2 separate regions of the Homo sapiens genome follow, and region 1 is linked to region 2. Evidence: fine-mapped expression QTL. A gene starts in region 2. The other region holds a variant in brackets. All regions are shown on one strand. Distances are between the middles of the regions. Region 1 overlaps SETD2 (SET domain containing 2, histone lysine methyltransferase). Region 2 holds the start of PTH1R (parathyroid hormone 1 receptor).

Region 1 (8,000 bases), 240 kb before region 2:
AGATTTCTTCAAATAGCTTTATGAATGTGCATTTGGAATCAAAACCAGTTATATGTGATAGTAGAAATTTGACAGATCACTCAAAATTTGCATGTGAAGAATATAAGCAGAGCATCGGTAGCACTAGTTCAGCTTCTGTTAATCATTTTGATGATTTATATCAACCTATTGGGAGTTCAGGTATTGCTTCATCTCTTCAGAGTCTTCCACCAGGAATAAAGGTGGACAGTCTAACTCTCTTGAAATGCGGAGAGAACACATCTCCAGTTCTGGATGCAGTGCTAAAGAGTAAAAAAAGTTCAGAGTTTTTAAAGCATGCAGGGAAAGAAACAATAGTAGAAGTAGGTAGTGACCTTCCTGATTCAGGAAAGGGATTTGCTTCCAGGGAGAACAGGCGTAATAATGGGTTATCTGGGAAATGTTTGCAAGAGGCTCAAGAAGAAGGGAATTCCATATTGCCTGAAAGAAGAGGAAGACCAGAAATCTCTTTAGATGAAAGAGGAGAAGGAGGACATGTGCATACTTCTGATGACTCAGAAGTTGTATTTTCTTCTTGTGATTTGAATTTAACCATGGAAGACAGTGATGGTGTAACTTATGCATTAAAGTGTGACAGTAGTGGTCATGCCCCAGAAATTGTGTCTACAGTTCATGAAGATTATTCTGGCTCTTCTGAAAGTTCAAATGATGAAAGTGATTCAGAAGATACAGATTCGGATGATAGCAGTATTCCAAGAAACCGTCTCCAGTCTGTTGTGGTTGTGCCAAAGAATTCTACTTTGCCCATGGAAGAAACAAGTCCTTGTTCTTCTCGGAGCAGTCAAAGTTATAGACACTATTCTGACCATTGGGAAGATGAGAGATTGGAGTCAAGGAGACATTTGTATGAGGAAAAATTTGAAAGTATAGCAAGTAAAGCCTGTCCTCAAACTGATAAGTTTTTCCTTCATAAAGGAACAGAGAAGAATCCGGAAATTTCTTTTACACAGTCCAGTAGAAAACAAATAGATAATCGCCTGCCTGAACTTTCTCATCCTCAGAGTGATGGGGTTGATAGTACAAGTCATACAGATGTGAAATCTGACCCTCTGGGTCACCCAAATTCAGAGGAAACCGTGAAAGCCAAAATACCTTCTAGGCAGCAAGAAGAGCTGCCAATTTATTCTTCTGATTTTGAAGATGTCCCAAATAAGTCTTGGCAACAGACCACTTTCCAAAACAGGCCAGATAGTAGACTGGGAAAAACAGAATTGAGTTTTTCTTCCTCTTGTGAGATACCACATGTGGATGGCTTGCACTCATCAGAAGAGCTCAGAAACTTAGGTTGGGACTTCTCTCAAGAAAAGCCTTCTACCACGTATCAGCAACCTGACAGTAGCTATGGAGCTTGTGGTGGACACAAGTATCAGCAAAATGCAGAACAGTATGGTGGGACACGTGATTACTGGCAAGGCAATGGTTACTGGGATCCAAGATCAGGTAGACCTCCTGGAACTGGGGTTGTGTATGATCGAACTCAAGGACAAGTACCAGATTCCCTAACAGATGATCGTGAAGAAGAGGAGAATTGGGATCAACAGGATGGATCCCATTTTTCAGACCAGTCCGATAAATTTCTTCTATCCCTTCAGAAAGACAAGGGGTCAGTGCAAGCACCTGAAATAAGCAGCAATTCCATTAAGGACACTTTAGCTGTGAATGAAAAGAAAGATTTTTCAAAAAACTTAGAAAAAAATGATATCAAAGATAGAGGGCCTCTTAAAAAAAGGAGGCAGGAAATAGAGAGTGATTCTGAAAGTGATGGTGAGCTTCAGGACAGAAAGAAAGTTAGAGTGGAGGTAGAGCAGGGAGAGACATCAGTGCCCCCAGGTTCAGCACTGGTTGGGCCCTCCTGTGTCATGGATGACTTCAGGGACCCACAGCGATGGAAGGAATGTGCCAAGCAAGGGAAAATGCCATGTTACTTTGATCTTATTGAAGAAAATGTTTATTTAACAGAAAGGTAAGTCTAATTAATACTTGTTTGACAAATTTTAACTCTTTTTTTGTTGTTAGAAAAAGCCTTTAAACAATTCAGACTGTATGAGATTAAACACATGAAAGAGTTGTGGGATAAAGTAAATTTAAAAGTCTAAAAAAGTGTTTTTACCTATTTAGATTTGATAGTATAGATTCCTTTCCCCATTCCCCCCGCCGCCCCATCCCCAGGAAAGGAGATGTCTATTTTTTTCTTTCATTACTTGTTTGGTTTTCAAGGTACAATTTAGGCTAGCCCAGTATTTCTGTAATTCCTTTTACATGTGAAAGTCTGACCAAAAAAACAGAATAAAACCCCAGCAAAATAATCTGTACTTAGAGAAGAAAAAAGTGGTTACTTTGGATTTTATTTTCAAAAATGTGCAGAATGAAGTATCTTTGGGTACTGTATTAGTCCGTTTTCATGCTGCTGATAAAGACATACCCGAGACTGGGAAGAAAAAGAGGTTTAATTGGACTTGCAGTTCCACATGGCTGGGGAGGCCTCAGAATTGCGGCAGGAGGCAAAAGGCACTTCTTACATGGTGGTGGCAAGAGAAAAAGAGGAAGAAGCAAAAGTGAAAACCCTTGATAAACCCATCAGATCTTGTGTGACTTAATCACCATCACAAGAATAACACGAGAAAGGCCGGCCCCCATGATTCAGTTACCTCCTCAAGTTGAGTTTGGGTGGGGAAACAGCCAAACCATATCAGGTACTTATAAAGTTAGAACTAGACTAGAACATAATTTTCTTCTCTCATTTTTTTTTAGACTATTGTTAATAGATTAAATCTGGCAATAGTGTAATAAATATTTTAGAAATGATAAAGTGGTTTATCAAAAAATCCCTAACATGAAACAAATTATAATGAGAATAAGAGTAATGAAAACATAGTCCTCTAGAGCAGGGCTTCTCAGTCTGTTTTAACTTTAACCCCTCCTTGATAATTTTCTCATTTTCCTGATGTAAATTTATATTGATTGTGCTTAAAAAACCAAAACAAAAAGTATCCTGCCCCCTTACTCTCCTTTTTTGGAAGTTTTCCTGCTAGTTGAGAATCAACCTAGCCATTGTATCTTTAAGGATCAAAATGTTATTAAATCAAATTTTCCTCTGTGTATAAGGTAAAAGACTTAATTTTAAAGGTAGGTCCTACCAGAAATTTTTTTCTATTACAAAATAACCTTTTAACAGAGAGCCTTTTACAGCTATTTTCATTTATATCTAGTTATAAATTAAGTTTACATTTAAAATATTCAATATTTTAAGTAGTACCCTTTAGGAATTGTGTGAGTAGACTAATGGAACTTACAAGATCTTTGTAAAAGAATATAAATAAAACTAATCAGTCCAATTCTCTGACTTTTCTTTAGCATTGAGAATCAGATATATATATATAAAACTGTGCACATAGATTTGGTTAGTGGAGGCATAAGAGGGCTTCCACCACTTTGCAGTGGGAAGGATTTATATATATTTAACTTTTTTTTTTTTTTTTTGAGACAGAGTCTCACTTTGTCTCCCAGGGTGGAGTGCAGTGGCGTGATCTCAGCTCACTGCAACCTCTGCCGGGTGCCACCACGCCCAGCTAATTTTTGTATTTTTAGTAGAGATGGGTTTCACCATGTTGGCCAGGCTGGTCTCGAACTCCTGACCTCAGGTGATCCGCCCGTCTCAGCCTCCCAAAGTACTGGGATTACAGGCGTGAGCTACCACGCCTGGCCTATATATTCAAAATTTTGAAGTGCCTGTTATATGCTAGGCATTTAGGAGCCACTAAGAAGACAAACTCTTATAAAAAATAATATGAATATAATGAAAACATTTTTCTTATGTTTAATGGAAAAGGGCTTACCTGCCAAAATCTATGCCCATTCGTCCTATTCCAGCCTTCTAGAGCAATACAAAATAAAGCTGCTGCTGATTCTTCAAAATTGTAGCTAAGTACTTCTAAATAGATAATTTCGTTTAGTCATCTTCAGGCTAAGCATATTCATATACTCATTAACGAATTGTGTCTTTAATCAAGAGGAATCATTCTTTTCACCTAAACTTAGTTAAAACTATCATAACACTCTTGAGGCACTTCATAAAATTGGCACTAGAATAGAACATATGTTGAAGATCAAAGCAGATTAGAGGTAGGAGATTAGATAACCATTTAGAGCAGCTATGCTGTTTCCTGTTTGATAGTCAAAGAGTGAGTTATAGTTCTTATAGTTCCCTAATCTTAAACATAACAGATCTTTTTTGACCATCTTTGGTTGTTTTGTTTTGTTTTTAGACCAGGGTAAAAGACTAGTTCATCAGCAAAAAGGCCAATAAATAATCACATTTTCACTTTTGCTTTGCACACTCTGGCATGGCTTATTATGAACGCAATCAAATTTTAGCAGTTTATGTTCTTCTCCAAAATAAATCTGTCTGCATGGAGAAAGTTGAGCCCTCTTAAACATTTACCTGATTATTCTGTAATTACACTTCATTTAAAAAATTCAGTCTGCTTTTAAACAAAATTTATGCAGATGTGATGTTACTGAAAGATTCTCTAAAATATTGGATTGAGTTAGAACTCACTCTTATTTTTTTAGAAACCCCTTTTCTCCCTCAATCTTATATCTCAACTATTATTTGCTCATCCATGAGGTCTGATTCTTAAACTTAACTTTAACCAGCTATGTCACTATTTGAAATGCATGA[G/A]TTTTCCTATTTTTCCTAGAACCTAGTATGACTTTAACACTTGAAACTGTTCTGAATCCAAGGCTTAGCTGACCTGGAGTAGGAAATAAGGGCTGAGTTCCAGAATGAGTAGTCTTGAACTCATCTCATCTTCCCCATTTGCCAAGGTTAAGGTTGCCCTTCTCATGTTTTTTTTTTTGTTTGTTTTTTTTTTTTTTTTTTTGGTAATGCAGGTCTTAGGATTTTCAGTCTCACAAGTACTAATAATTAGATGTTTTATTTTGAATGGTTGACTTACAGGAATCATTAAATGTGAATCTAGCCAGGCGTAGTGGATCATGCCTGCGATTGCAGCACTTTGGGAAGTGGAGGCAGGGGAATTTCTTGAGCCCAGGAGTTCAAGACCAGCTTGAGTAACATAGAGAGACCCTGTCTCTACAGAATATTAAAGAACAAACAAACAACAACAATAACAAAAACCAAGCGTGGTGGCATGAGCTGTGGTCCCAGCTATTCAGGAGGTGGAAGTGGGAGGGTCATTTGAATCCAGGAGGTTGAGGCTGCAGTGAGCCATGATCGCATCACTGCACCCTGGCCTGGGTGACAGAACAAGACCCTGTTTAAAAAAACCCAAAAGAATCTAATGAGATTTGGCACATATTTGATTATATATGTTATATCTTTACCAGGAAATTTATTTAATCAGTTTTTATGAAATTTTACCCAATAGAAAGAAGAATAAATCTCATCGAGATATTAAGCGAATGCAGTGTGAGTGTACACCTCTTTCTAAAGATGAAAGAGCTCAAGGTGAAATAGCATGTGGGGAAGATTGTCTTAATCGTCTTCTCATGATTGAATGGTAAGTAAATTAGAATACTCGGCTTTTGCTCAACACTTCTATTAAATGTCTCTAAATATTGAATTATCAATGAAGAATAAAATTTAACCTTTCTCCTACCTATGGATGACTACAAGCAAAAAAGTATAGTAGACACTTTGATGTATAGTAGAAAACATATTAATAGGGAAACAAATATCCCTTGCATTGTGCATTAGATTACAGTACCCACCATGTTTTAAGTGCTTGGTAAAGTAGTCCTATAATATTAATTTCTATTCAGTACTTTTTTATCTTTTATAATATTTATGTCCTAGAGGTAAATGTTGGTATTTTTTAGCTTTCACTATAAAGTGAAATAAAACCCTAACATTTCAGAAATGCATAAAGTGAATGTCTTCTCCCAAACATCAGTCCCATTGTTTTGTCATTTTTCCAGAAAACTTTTAATGCCTATGCTAGCATAGGTAGATGTTTTCCTCTTTTTATGTATACAGATAAAATCTTATTCTATATACTTGCTTGGATTTGCTAATCAGACCTAATCAGAGCTCTGTGTACAGACCTGCCTAAATCTTTCTCTTGACTGCATTATGTATTCTATTCATAGTTAGCCGGTAATTAGTCTGTTGACAGACATTTGCTTCTGTATTGTTCTTATAAATAGTAAATATCTTTACATTAAAAAATTTAATTTTGGCCAGGCGTAGTGGCTCATGCCTGTAATCCCAGCTATTTGGGAGGCTGAGGCGGGCAGATCACTTGAGGCCAGGAGTTTAGGATCAGCCTGGCCAACATGGTGAAACCCCATCTCTACTAAAAAATACAAAAATTAGCCAGGCATGATGACACACACCTGTAATCCCAGCTACTCTGGAGGCTGAGGCAGGAGAAGCACTTGAACCCAGGAGGTGGAGCTTGCAGTGAGCTGTCATTCCACTATACTCCAGCCTGGGTGACAGAGCGAGATGTTGTCTCAAAAAAATTTTTTTAACCAATCTGATTGATGAAAAATATATTCTTGTCTTTTACATGGAAAGAGTATACCTTATTTTTGATGTTAGTGAAGGTTTTTTTTCCCCAAAGCTCAGTTTTTGGTTTTGCTCATGTTATAGTGTTGCAAAAATAAAATATATATACCTTGAAAAAATAAAGAGAAAGGATTTTTGGTATTCTTTTATCCAAACTAGAGAGAGAGATGACAGTACAGATGTAAGAAGAGAAGACATAGAGTTAGCATTATTCTAACTTCATATTGTTGCCCTAGTCATTCTTCTGGGTTTTCCTGCCAACCTTGTGAAGCATACATGAAGAAAAATATTTCTTCATATTATTCACACACTTAAGCTTTTGGTAGTTCTCGGTTGTTCTCATGATTAGGTTCAAACTTAGCCTTGTATTCAGAGCCCTTGGTAGCATATCATCAGCCTGTCTTTTCATCCTCCAGCAACTCACCTTTCTTATCAGTTATCTTTAGTTGTTTCATTTCTCTTTGTCCAAACAGGGATTGTTTTCCTATTTCTGCACACAGACAGGGACAGTTGTATCTCCAGCTTTCTTTATGCATATCCTATGTATCATTAGAGATTCTGCCTTAAATTCTCTTCCCTCCTGAAAGCTTTCCTTTATACTGCCTCACTCTAGAGCAAATCCTTCATCCTTTGACCATTGCTAAAAATGTTATTTGCTGCTGGGTGGGCAATAAATAATAATATATTCAAAATGATTGGTAATTTCCAGTGGTCTTTTTTTTTTTTTTTTTTTTTTGAGACAGTCTCCCTCTGTCGCCCAGGCTAGAGTGCAGTGGCACAATCTTGACTCACTACAACCTCTGCCTCCTGGGTTCAAACAATTCTCCTGCCTCAGCCTCCCAAGTAGCTGGGATTACAGGCGTGCACCATCATGCCCGGCTAATTTTTGTATTTTTCAGAGAGACAGGATTTCACTATGTTGGCGAGGGTGGTCTTGAATTCCTGACCTCAAGTGATCCACCTGCCTTGGCCTCCCAAAGTGCTGGGATTACAGGCATGAATCACCGTACTCAGCCCCCTCTGGTGTAGTTTTAATCATCGTTAAAACCTTTATATCTATCACATATTAAGAAGTCAATCAGTGTTCGATTTTATCATTTTTACTCTAGGATCCATGGGAGAAGAGCCATGCCATGTTATTCTGTTTACTCTGAACAAGGATATATTTAATAATGACTTTAGATTTTCTCAATTGTAGATCAAGTAGTTAGCTGCATTCAAAAAATGAAATTAAAAGTGATTAGAGTAGAAGGAAGGGAAGGTGCACTTACAGAATATAAGTTCTGCAGAGTTGTCAATGTACTGAAAGCTTACATGCAGCCTGAAAATGTATTCTAGACACCTAGGGAGTGGTAGATATTTCTGTGATGACCAGATATCAAGGCTGTATTGTGGGTATGATCTGTTTAAGTAACAATGTAGATACTCA
Region 2 (9,276 bases):
CACGTCCAGCCCCACCCTCGCCTCGTCCCCTGCCCTCAGTCCCATCCCAGGCCTGTCGTTCCTCTCGGCCCTAGGCCAGCCCCGACCCCCGCCCAGGTCTGCAGCCACACATCCCGCTCCCTCCCTGCCCAGCGTCTCTTCGGGTCCGGGTCTCCGAGTCTCGACCCATTCAGCTGCTGGCCGGGCCTCTCCAGCTTGCCCAGCCCCAACCCCGGAGGCTCGAGGCTGCCAGACCTGGGGCTCAATCCAGACACCCACTCTCAGGCTTCACCTCCCTCCCCCGTTCCCACCCCCACTCCCAAAAGCTATCGGCCGGCTCGGACCGGGCCGCCTGGGACCCTCGACTTAGGGGAAGGCAAGGAGGAGTCCGCGGGGGTTGGGGCTGAACGGGGCGGGATTTCTGTGTTTGGCTGGGGAGGGCACGCTGGAGCTCTAAGAGGAGGGGCCCTTCGACCCCAAACCTACCACCTCCCGGTACCAAGTGGGGAAACTGAGGCAGAGGGAGGGGCTGGGGATGCCTGGAGCGCAGGGCTTTAAGGATCGCGGAGGAAGCGAATGCATGAGGCCCTGGGAAATGAGTCTGGGCTAAGCAACAGCCTGTGCTTGCCCGCTTACCAGTTGTGTGTCCTGGACACTACCACTCTTCGGCTGTCTGGACCTCAGTTTCCTCATCTGCAAAATGGAGAGGTTGGCCAGCTGATTCAAGGGCAATGTTAACTTTACTGTTTAGTTTCCACGAGGGTGGGCATCCTGGCCCATGGGCTCCAGGGGCTCTCAAGACTCAGCCTGTGGATATTGAGCTCCTCGGAGCCTGCAAACCTGCCCTCCAACCCTCAGTGCAAATCTGTCAAGCCCAAGTCCTAAGGCCTAGGATCCAGCTGCAGCCACCCTTCTGCTGGCTCAAGCCCATCCAGCTTCCAGACTGCACTCCCAGGTGCATTCCCCATGTATTTCTTCTGCTGCTACTTTCTTCTTCTTTCTTCTCCTTCTCCTTCTTCTTCTTCTTCAAGACAAAGTCTCACTTTGTCACCCAGGCTGGAGTCCAGTGGCATGATCTCTGCTCACTGCAACCTCCGCTTCCCAGGCTCAAGTGATTCTCCCAAGTAGCTGGGACTACAGGTGTGTACCACCAACCTGGCTAATTTTTGCATTTCTTGGTAGAGACGGGGTTTCACCATGTTGACCAGGCTGGTCACGAACCCCTGACCTCAAGTGATCCACCTGCCTCAGCCTCCCAAAGTGCTGGGATTACAGGTATGAACCACCAGCCTTGGCCCTCCCCATGCATTTCTATGGCTGCCTCCCTTCTCTGTGCCCACTGCCCTCATTTCTTTTTCTGGTGTTCAAGGGCTGTGCTATTTGAGACAGTTTCCTCCAAAAATGACTCTCCCTAACAGGAACTGTCTGCTAGACTCCTGGTCTTCTTCACACATCCACTCTCCTGCCTTTGTCCTTGCTGCTTCCTCTGCCAGGATCATACTCTTCTGCCTGGTGTAAAGGACACTCCCCTCCCTCCTTGTGTGCCCACATCCTCCGTTACTGGGGAGGGAGGTTGTGATTTCAGGGCTGCCTCCTATGGTATGTAGCCTCCTTGGGACGGAGGCCCAGGTGCCAGAATGGGCACCTAAAGAACACTTGTGGTTCTTCAGTGTTATATTTTAATGGTCTCAGCTTTATTATGCCTCTGTTTCTTTTCTTTTTTGAGACAGGGCTGTTGGCCAGGCTGGAGTGCAGTGGTGCGATCTCGGCTGACTGCAACCTCCACCTCCCGGGTTCAAGCAATTCTCTGGCCTCAGCCTCCTGAGTAGCTGGCATTATAGTTGTGCACCACCACGCCTGGCTAATTTTTGCATTTGTAGTGGAGATGGGGTTTCTCCATGTTGGCCAGGCTGGTTTCAAACTCCTGGCCTCAAGTGATCCTGTCTCGGCCTCCCAAAGTGTTGAGATTACAAGCGTGAGCCACCACACGCAGCATTTTTTTTTTCCCCAGACAGGGTCTTGCTGTGTCACCCAGGCTGGAGTGCAGTGGCACGGTCATGGCTCACAGCAGCCTTGACCTCCTGGGCTCAAGCAATCCTCTCACCTCAGCCTCTCATGTAGCTGGCACCACAGGCATGAGCTACCACACCTGGGTAATTAAAAAATTTTTTTTTTGTAGAGACGAGGTCTCACTTTGTTGCCTAGACTGGTCTCCAACTCTTGGGCTCAAGCAGTCCTCCTGCCTCGGCCTCCCAAAGTGCTGGGATTACAGGCATGAACCACCGCACCTGGCCTATGCCTCTGTTTCTAAGTGTCTCTAAGTTTTATGGTTCTGTGACCACTGATCTTCCACCCTGCTTTCCCCCTTGGTGATGAGAAAAGAACATTAATGGAGGGATTGGAAGGACTGAGAGATAAAACTAGAGGCTGAGGGGAGGAGTTCTTTTCAGATCTGACACCAGGGAAAACTTGAGATTTGGAAACATACTACTTGTACTTGGGAGGATGAGGGTGGGCTGTGGAGAGGGCTGCAGAGAGGAATCTGATGGGTGCTGGGTCCCTTAAGGGCATTCCTCCTGCCATAACTCATGTGCCTCACCCCAGAGTCCCCTGCTGGACATTCCACAGCTGTGGGTGGGGCCACAGATCATCTCTCTCACCCTCGGGCCTCTGGTTAAAGTGCTACCATGAGGGTGGGGGTGTCACACATTAACTGGTAGCACCCAAGCACCTGGCAGAGTCAGCTTGCCCTTTTTGACAAGCACGCCCCAGGGGCTCAGAGTCAGTTTCTGGTTAGTGTCAGGTCAGTGTTAGTTTCAATGGGGTTTGAAAAGGCCTGGCTGGGGGTGGGGAGTAGGAGTGAGTCCCTGTCTCTAATCCCCAGGCTGGGGCCTAGGAGGAGGAGCCAGGGTGGTCACTGGATCTCAGAACTGCAGTAGGGGCCAGACTCTGGCCCCACCCCTGCTGGTGTGGCAGCCCCAGGCTGACAGGCCTCTGCTGCAGCCATCCCACCGTGAGTAGGGCTCTGGCCAAGGTACACAGACCCTGGGGCCAGGGTGGGCATCAGACACCAACAAGCAAGGCAAGAGGCTCAGCTGTCTGAGCAATGCAGCCTGGCCTTCCTCCCTCAGAAAACCCCTTGGCCAGACCAGGGGTTCTCTGGGACTAATGGCTCACATCTATTTCTGAGTCCTTATATTTCCCCAGTGCTTCATCCCAACACTAGCCCCAAAGTCAGGCTGCATCCAAGCTTAGCCCTGATCCCAGACTGAGCTCTATCTCCATCATGAGCCCCAGCCTCAGGCTGAGTTCTTATCCCAGTCTGATTTCTAGCCCCTGGCTGAACTCTGACCCCAGGTTGTGCCTCCACCCAGCCCTCAACCCCAGACCTCTCTCGGCTTCTAGGCCCCTCTGGAAACTTTTTGAGGCAAGAGCCCAGTAGGGGAGGGGATGGCTAGGCCATAAGTGAAGCGAGGTGCCACTTTTACAGCCATTTCGGCTGCTCATAAACACCCCCTGACACCCAGCTGAGTCGCTGGAGGCTCCCATGGCAGCTGGCTGGGTAGCCCCCTTCCCTTGCAGCAGAAGCATGGCTGCCTGGCTTTCTTGCCTCTCAGGAAGGTGAAGGGAGGGGCGATGGGGGCACCTGGGGCCAGCAGGCTCTGTCCCAACCAGGGAGCACTCCTAAGGCTCCCAAGGAGCTAGAGGTATGGGCTTTCTGTCCCTGCTGGCCTCATGGTTACAAGCCCCCTGCTGTCATAACACCAGGTCCACAGATGTGTCTCCATGCGGGCATGTCTTGTCTGCCCCATAGCACGGCCCAGGTATTTAGACACTCACCCCCAGGGAAACCACAGACTTGGGCTTCCCAGCTGTGCTCAGGCCCCTAGGCTCCCCTGGCCCCCACTCACCTGCAGCCCATGGGCCTTCCAAGTCGGGCCTAAAGCTGCAGAGCAGACTCAAGTTGGCCACGGGGAGGCCATGGATAGTCCCTGAGCAGCTTCTGTGGCTCAGGCCTAAGCAAGGATAGTGCTGCTGGGGACAAGAAAAGACCTGAGTCAGAGCTTCCACTTGAAAAGAAAATTAATTATTTTTTACCAAGCCCTACACTGGCCCAGGACTTTGTCCCAGGCTCCTAGTCAGGAGTAGGAGGCAACAGAGGCAGATCCAAGTGTGCCGGTGTTCAGATGCCCAGGGCTGGGCCCTCCCCTCAGCACCCATGGGTCTGCCTGCCAGGTAACTGGGCCCACTCAGGCTGCCAGACACGTGTGTGTGCCTCAATAGTCCTCTCCTTGCCCTGCCATGCCTCTCTCTTAGTCTCTGTGTCCCTGTCTAACCCTCTGGTCCTTTCCACATCTCAGGAATATCAGGCTGCCACGAGGTATGAACACAGCCCCTACTAGTGACTTCACTCAAGTTTAAGGCACCCAGAGAAATCAGAGGGGGGCTGGAGGTGGTTCTTGCCTGTGTCACAGGCAGGAAAACTGAGGCCCAAGAAAGCCTGATCTGCCAGCACTGGGTACCCAGTGGCTCCTAGACGGAAGAGATGGAGGGGGCCGTCATTCCACTCCAGCCCGTGTCCTGACCCCTACAGCCCCACAGCCACCTCATATCTGACTCCTTGCCCACTGGAATGTGGGCTCCTGGTGAGGAGTCAGCCAGGAAGCCCTCCCTATCTGCCTCCCAGGCCCTTCCAGGCCCAGGGTCTGCTTAAGCTGTCACAGGTCTCAAAGGCAGGGGGCTGTGGACAGGATGACTTCTCTCTGTGGGTCTGTAGAACGAGCTGTGTTCAGAACCAGGGCTGGTTGCTCAGGATGAAGATGTGGGCAGACAGGGAGGCAGAGACCCTGCAAGATCCCAGAAACCTCACCCCCAGGCCCTGTGACCCGGCTGGAGGCTGCCCTTCTGCCTGAGCCCAGTCTGAGCTGGTTTGTGTCTGGAAGTCCTAGGCTCAGCCTGATGAGGTATAATGATTCACGTGGCAGCTGCCACTCAGCACATTCCAGCTGTAGCCCCCAGTGCCCTGCATGTGAGGCAGCTGGCCCCAACCACCCCCAGCCATTGGGCACATTCCTAGGGCCCCCCTCCCTGGGTCTTCCAGGCTCCTGGGGAGGGTACCACTCATTAGAGTTTCCAAAGTACTTTTTGTTTCACAAGTTAGTCAGGGAGGCAGGCTCGGTGATACCTGGCCTCCAGGTGGAGGAAACGGGACCAAAGAGCAGAATGGACTGGCCAGGGGACATAGTGAAACTATGACAAACAGCACTTATGGGACTCCTGCCCCAGCTACTCTGAAGTGCACTGCTCCAAGGGGTATCCTGGGACACGTAGGCTATTCTGTGACCAGGCCAGCGGAGGTCAGTGGGCAGTTGTGCCCAAAGGAGGGAGAGTTCCCCTGTGCTCTGTCAAGCCTCCCTGTTGCCCTGGCTCTTGACTGCCAGAGCCTCTACCTCCCCTGAGTCCACATGCACTGCCCTACCCTGCCCACAGGCCCCATCCTCACTGGCCAGGGAAGCAGGAGGCTGGGGCCTTTTCTGCTTTGACCTGTGGATCCCTGAGCCAGACGCCTTCCTGCTCATGGCCTCAGTTTCCTGATCTGTTGTTAACAGTTGGGCAGTTTCAGGCTCAAAGGGGATCTGTAAAGTGCCCAGGCACTTGGGTCTTGGATGCAAGCAGACCTGGGAGTCTGAAAACCTGAAGGCCTTTCTCTCCTCGAGCCTTGGGCCTGCCAGTTTGCGTTCCTCCTGTGGGCCCCAGCCCAGGGCTCTGGGGGGCAAGTCTGGCCCTCAGCTCCGGGGACAGGAAGTTGTATTTTGGTCCTGGGTTCTGGGGAAGAGGTAGGGGGAGAATGGCAGCTCAGACCCAGCCATGTTTACTCGGGCCCGGCCCCCTCCGAGCTCAACAGGCTCCCATTCATTGGGAGACCCATAAACCCTTTGGGGCTCCCTGAGGTTCAGAACGCCTGGATGCCAAGGCTGGATGCCGCCCCCAGACCTGCTGGGAGCTGTGGGCAGCAGGTGGGGCATGAGTGAGGCATAAGTGGGATGGTGGGTGGGAGCCTGAGACTCGCCTGAGTTTCCAGGTATTTGCAGCGTCGTAACAGTTCTTGCCCCATGCACATTGTGGAGCAGTTGGGAAATCCAGGGAGGTGGTGGAGGTTGAAGGGTTCCTTCCATGGCCACGAGGCCATCAAAACTGATTTCTCTTAGATCAGGCCCCAGAAGGGTGTCTCCTCAGACTAGGCTCCTGAGGGCATGTCCTCAAATTGCATGACCCTCAAGGCAAGGCTGAGACTGCTGTGTCCAAAGCGGAGCTGATGTCCTTGCTGAGGCTGCATACCTGGCCTTGGGTTGTTGACAGTCCACTCCCTGGCAGTGTGGGCATGGGCTTGCATCCCACTGGAGTAGGGCAAGTCTCTGGTCTGTTCCTCATCTGTTCAGCAGGAGGTCTTCACCGGAAGGGGAAGCACTGGGATTGGATGCTGAGGGATGGGGCCCTCAGGTCTGCATCCCTCAGTGTTGCGTGTTGTTACCTTTGTGCCCATCTCTGTGCTTTCTTTGGGTGAGTTAGAGCACCGTCCCGTGGTCCCTGGAAATGGAAGGGAGGCAGCAACAGTGTTCAATGGGAAGAACTGTGGCTTGGGGGTCCAAATCTTGTCCAGCTTTCCCATGACCTGGTAACAATTCTGTCCCCACTCAGGTCTTCAGTTCTCCCTGCCACAGACGGGTTAGAGTGGACTCTCTCCAAACCCACCCCCAGCCCTGCTGTTCCCAAGGGCAGCTCTGAGGGAGATCCCTGGTGGCATGGTGGCGGGGAGTGGGGTAGGAGAAAGGCCTCCCCACCAGATCCCCTTTCATCAGTGCCCCCACATGCCCGGGCAACCTGGCCAGCCACTGGGGACACTGGTTGGGGGTCCAAAGCGGGTCCTGTTTCCCAGACGCCTTCTGGGTAGAGTGTGATTTCCCGCTCCAGTGGTTGTAAAATCCCCAGAAGCCTAGTGCGTCCCTATTGTGTGTGTGGGGGGGGGTCTGTGCCTCGGAATACCCCCTCCCAGGCGTGTTTGACACGTGTTTCCGCCTCTCCCTGCATGGGCTCCCGCTGCTGCTATTTATAACCTTTAAGAGCTCCTGCCGACTGCAAAGTTTTCTTAAACTCAAAATATCACCGAGGTCCCGGGCACGCGTTCCAGAGGCCGGCTGGGCCCTGCGGTTTGAAGGGAGGAGGGGGCCAGGAAGGAGGAGGTGGTGGGGAGGGGGTTAGCTCAGACACTGGGTCCTTGCCGGGGGCTGTGGCCGGGAGCCCTCGAGTGGAGAACCCCTAGTCCTGACACTCCTGCCCTGTTAGGCCTGGAGGAACCCTCTATGTGGGTGGTCCTTTGTCGTGCCTTGCCAAATCTCTGGGCCTCAGTTTCCTCTCACTCTAAATGCCTCAGGGGACACTGGCTGGGGCAAGGCAATGAGCTGGCGGACACTGGGAATGTCTCTAGGGCTGGAATCAGGGTTGTGTCTGCCTGGCCATCCTGCAGGCTGCACCAAGCCTGGCCCAGAGGCACCGTGGACATTGGCTGAACTGGCTGGAGAGGGGAAGCACTCAGGGAAGTTTATAAAACCGTGTATGGGAAAGCGACATCCAGAGAAGGGCAATGGCATGCCAGAGGTCACCCCGCTCATCCAGAGCAAGTCTCCAGGCCTTCCGACACCCGTGCCCTCTGAGGTGAGCCTCTTTGGAAGAGGCCGAAGGGCTCTCACTGGGCACAGGTGGGTCGCCAGTGTGGAGGAGGTTCTGGGCTTAACGGGAGGTGGCTAGGCATAACTCAGATGCCTCCCTGAAGCTGGAGGGGACACTGGCAGCTGGTCTGGCCCAGTGAGGTCAGGCCTCTGCCCAAAGTCACACACCCAGCTCCTGCCTGCCCTGACCTCTGCTCTATCTCTGGGGCCTCTCTGCCTCCCGGACTAGTCATGATCTTTTTGGGGAGGTCAGTGGTCTAGGCTTCCCCCAGTCCCACTGCACTCCTTTCCTGAGCTGGTGTGGGGGCTGTGGAGGCAAGGGACTGGAGCACTGAACTCAGGGCCATCCAGTACATCCTGTCCTCACAGCAGCACCCTCTCTCAGCACAGCTGGCTCTGGAAGCCACTCTTGGCCCAACGAGCAGAGCTGGGTTCAAGATGGAAGGGTGACCACCCCCGCCCTTAAACTCAGCGGCCCCACATCAATTTTTCCAATCAAGCGTAACCACACAGGGCTCCTTGGGGGTGGAGGGGGGCAAGGAAGTGATGACCTCGCAAACAGAGGAGGAGGAAGAAGAGGAGGAGGAGGAACAATGTGTTCTGCAAGCTCAGCCCTGCCTTCCGTGGCCCCTGCCTGCACCTTACTGTGTGTTGGGCTCAGCTGGGAGATGCAGAGACTCAAGAGTTTGGGGGAGCCAACTCCCTGCCTGGCCCCACTGCCCTGTGTTCCCATTCCCTGAACCCTCCATGAGCTCTTGGCCTCTGCCCCTGCACTTCTTGCCATCTGACTTGTCCTTCCCTTCTCTGCCTGGGTGGCTCTTGTATGCCCTCCAAAGGCCCCCTCCTCTCTGAAGCCTTCCTGGATCTGCACCTTTCAACTCCCAGCAGAGTGAGACCTCAGACCTCCTGGTATGACTAGAAAATTTAGCACGGCATGATATGCTGCTGCCTCTGTCCCAATAGACGGCGAGCCCTTGAGGACAGGGGCTAGGTTATCTCTGTGGCTCTGCTGAGAAGCCTCCATCTCTTGGGGGAGGGCACACCTATTGGCCAGAGCTGTGGATTCCAAACACCCTGCTCCCTTACCTCTTTGTCTCTCAGTTGCCATGGGTAGGCTCAGTTTCCTCATGAGCAGGCCCCAGGATCAGAGACAGATCCCTTCATTGTTGGAACGCTCATTGTCGGAACGTTTTCCTCCAGGAAACGTTATGAGATGGAATCTGCCTGACGGCATCTTCTCAGAAAGCCAGGGAGCAGCCCCAGGGGTTGAGCTGGAGCCTAACCCTGAGACAGCAGCTGAACCTGGAGCTGGCAGAGAGGACCCACCCTCGACCCCCATCCCAGACCAGCCTGGCTGTCCCTGCAGCTGCTGCTGTGAGACCATGGGAGTGGGGAGACTGGCATGTCCTCTCTCTGGACCCCAAGGTCAGGCGAGGAGGGGCCTGAGAGGTGGTGACGGCTTCTGGCAGCCGCAATCAATGATGGTTTCTCCTTGTTTTCCTGCCCCTGGGAGGTGTATCTCCAATGATTCTAGGTGGGGCAGGGGCCACGAGCATGCTGGTTGGGGGTG

The links. PIP is the estimated chance that this variant, and not a neighbour inherited with it, causes the effect.
Region 1: its variant is the best candidate, but not a certain one, in a credible set for the expression of PTH1R in tibial nerve (GTEx, PIP 0.86).

Annotation. Positions count from the first base shown.
Region 1 is chr3:47,114,184-47,122,183 of GRCh38, reverse strand. SETD2 (SET domain containing 2, histone lysine methyltransferase) reads left to right here. Exons shown (of 21, transcript NM_014159.7): 3 at 1-2,002; 4 at 5,430-5,561. Among named protein-coding and RNA genes, the nearest start is that of SETD2, 46 kb to the left of the region's middle. RefSeq lists enhancers at 7,458-7,966, 7,967-8,000. The variant G/A (reference allele first, on the strand shown) is at 4,721.
Region 2 is chr3:46,872,458-46,881,733 of GRCh38, reverse strand. PTH1R (parathyroid hormone 1 receptor) reads right to left here and starts at 4,013. Exons shown (of 16, transcript NM_000316.3): 1 at 3,891-4,013; 2 at 616-672. It also overlaps a transcript of MYL3 not described here. RefSeq lists an enhancer at 7,626-8,480.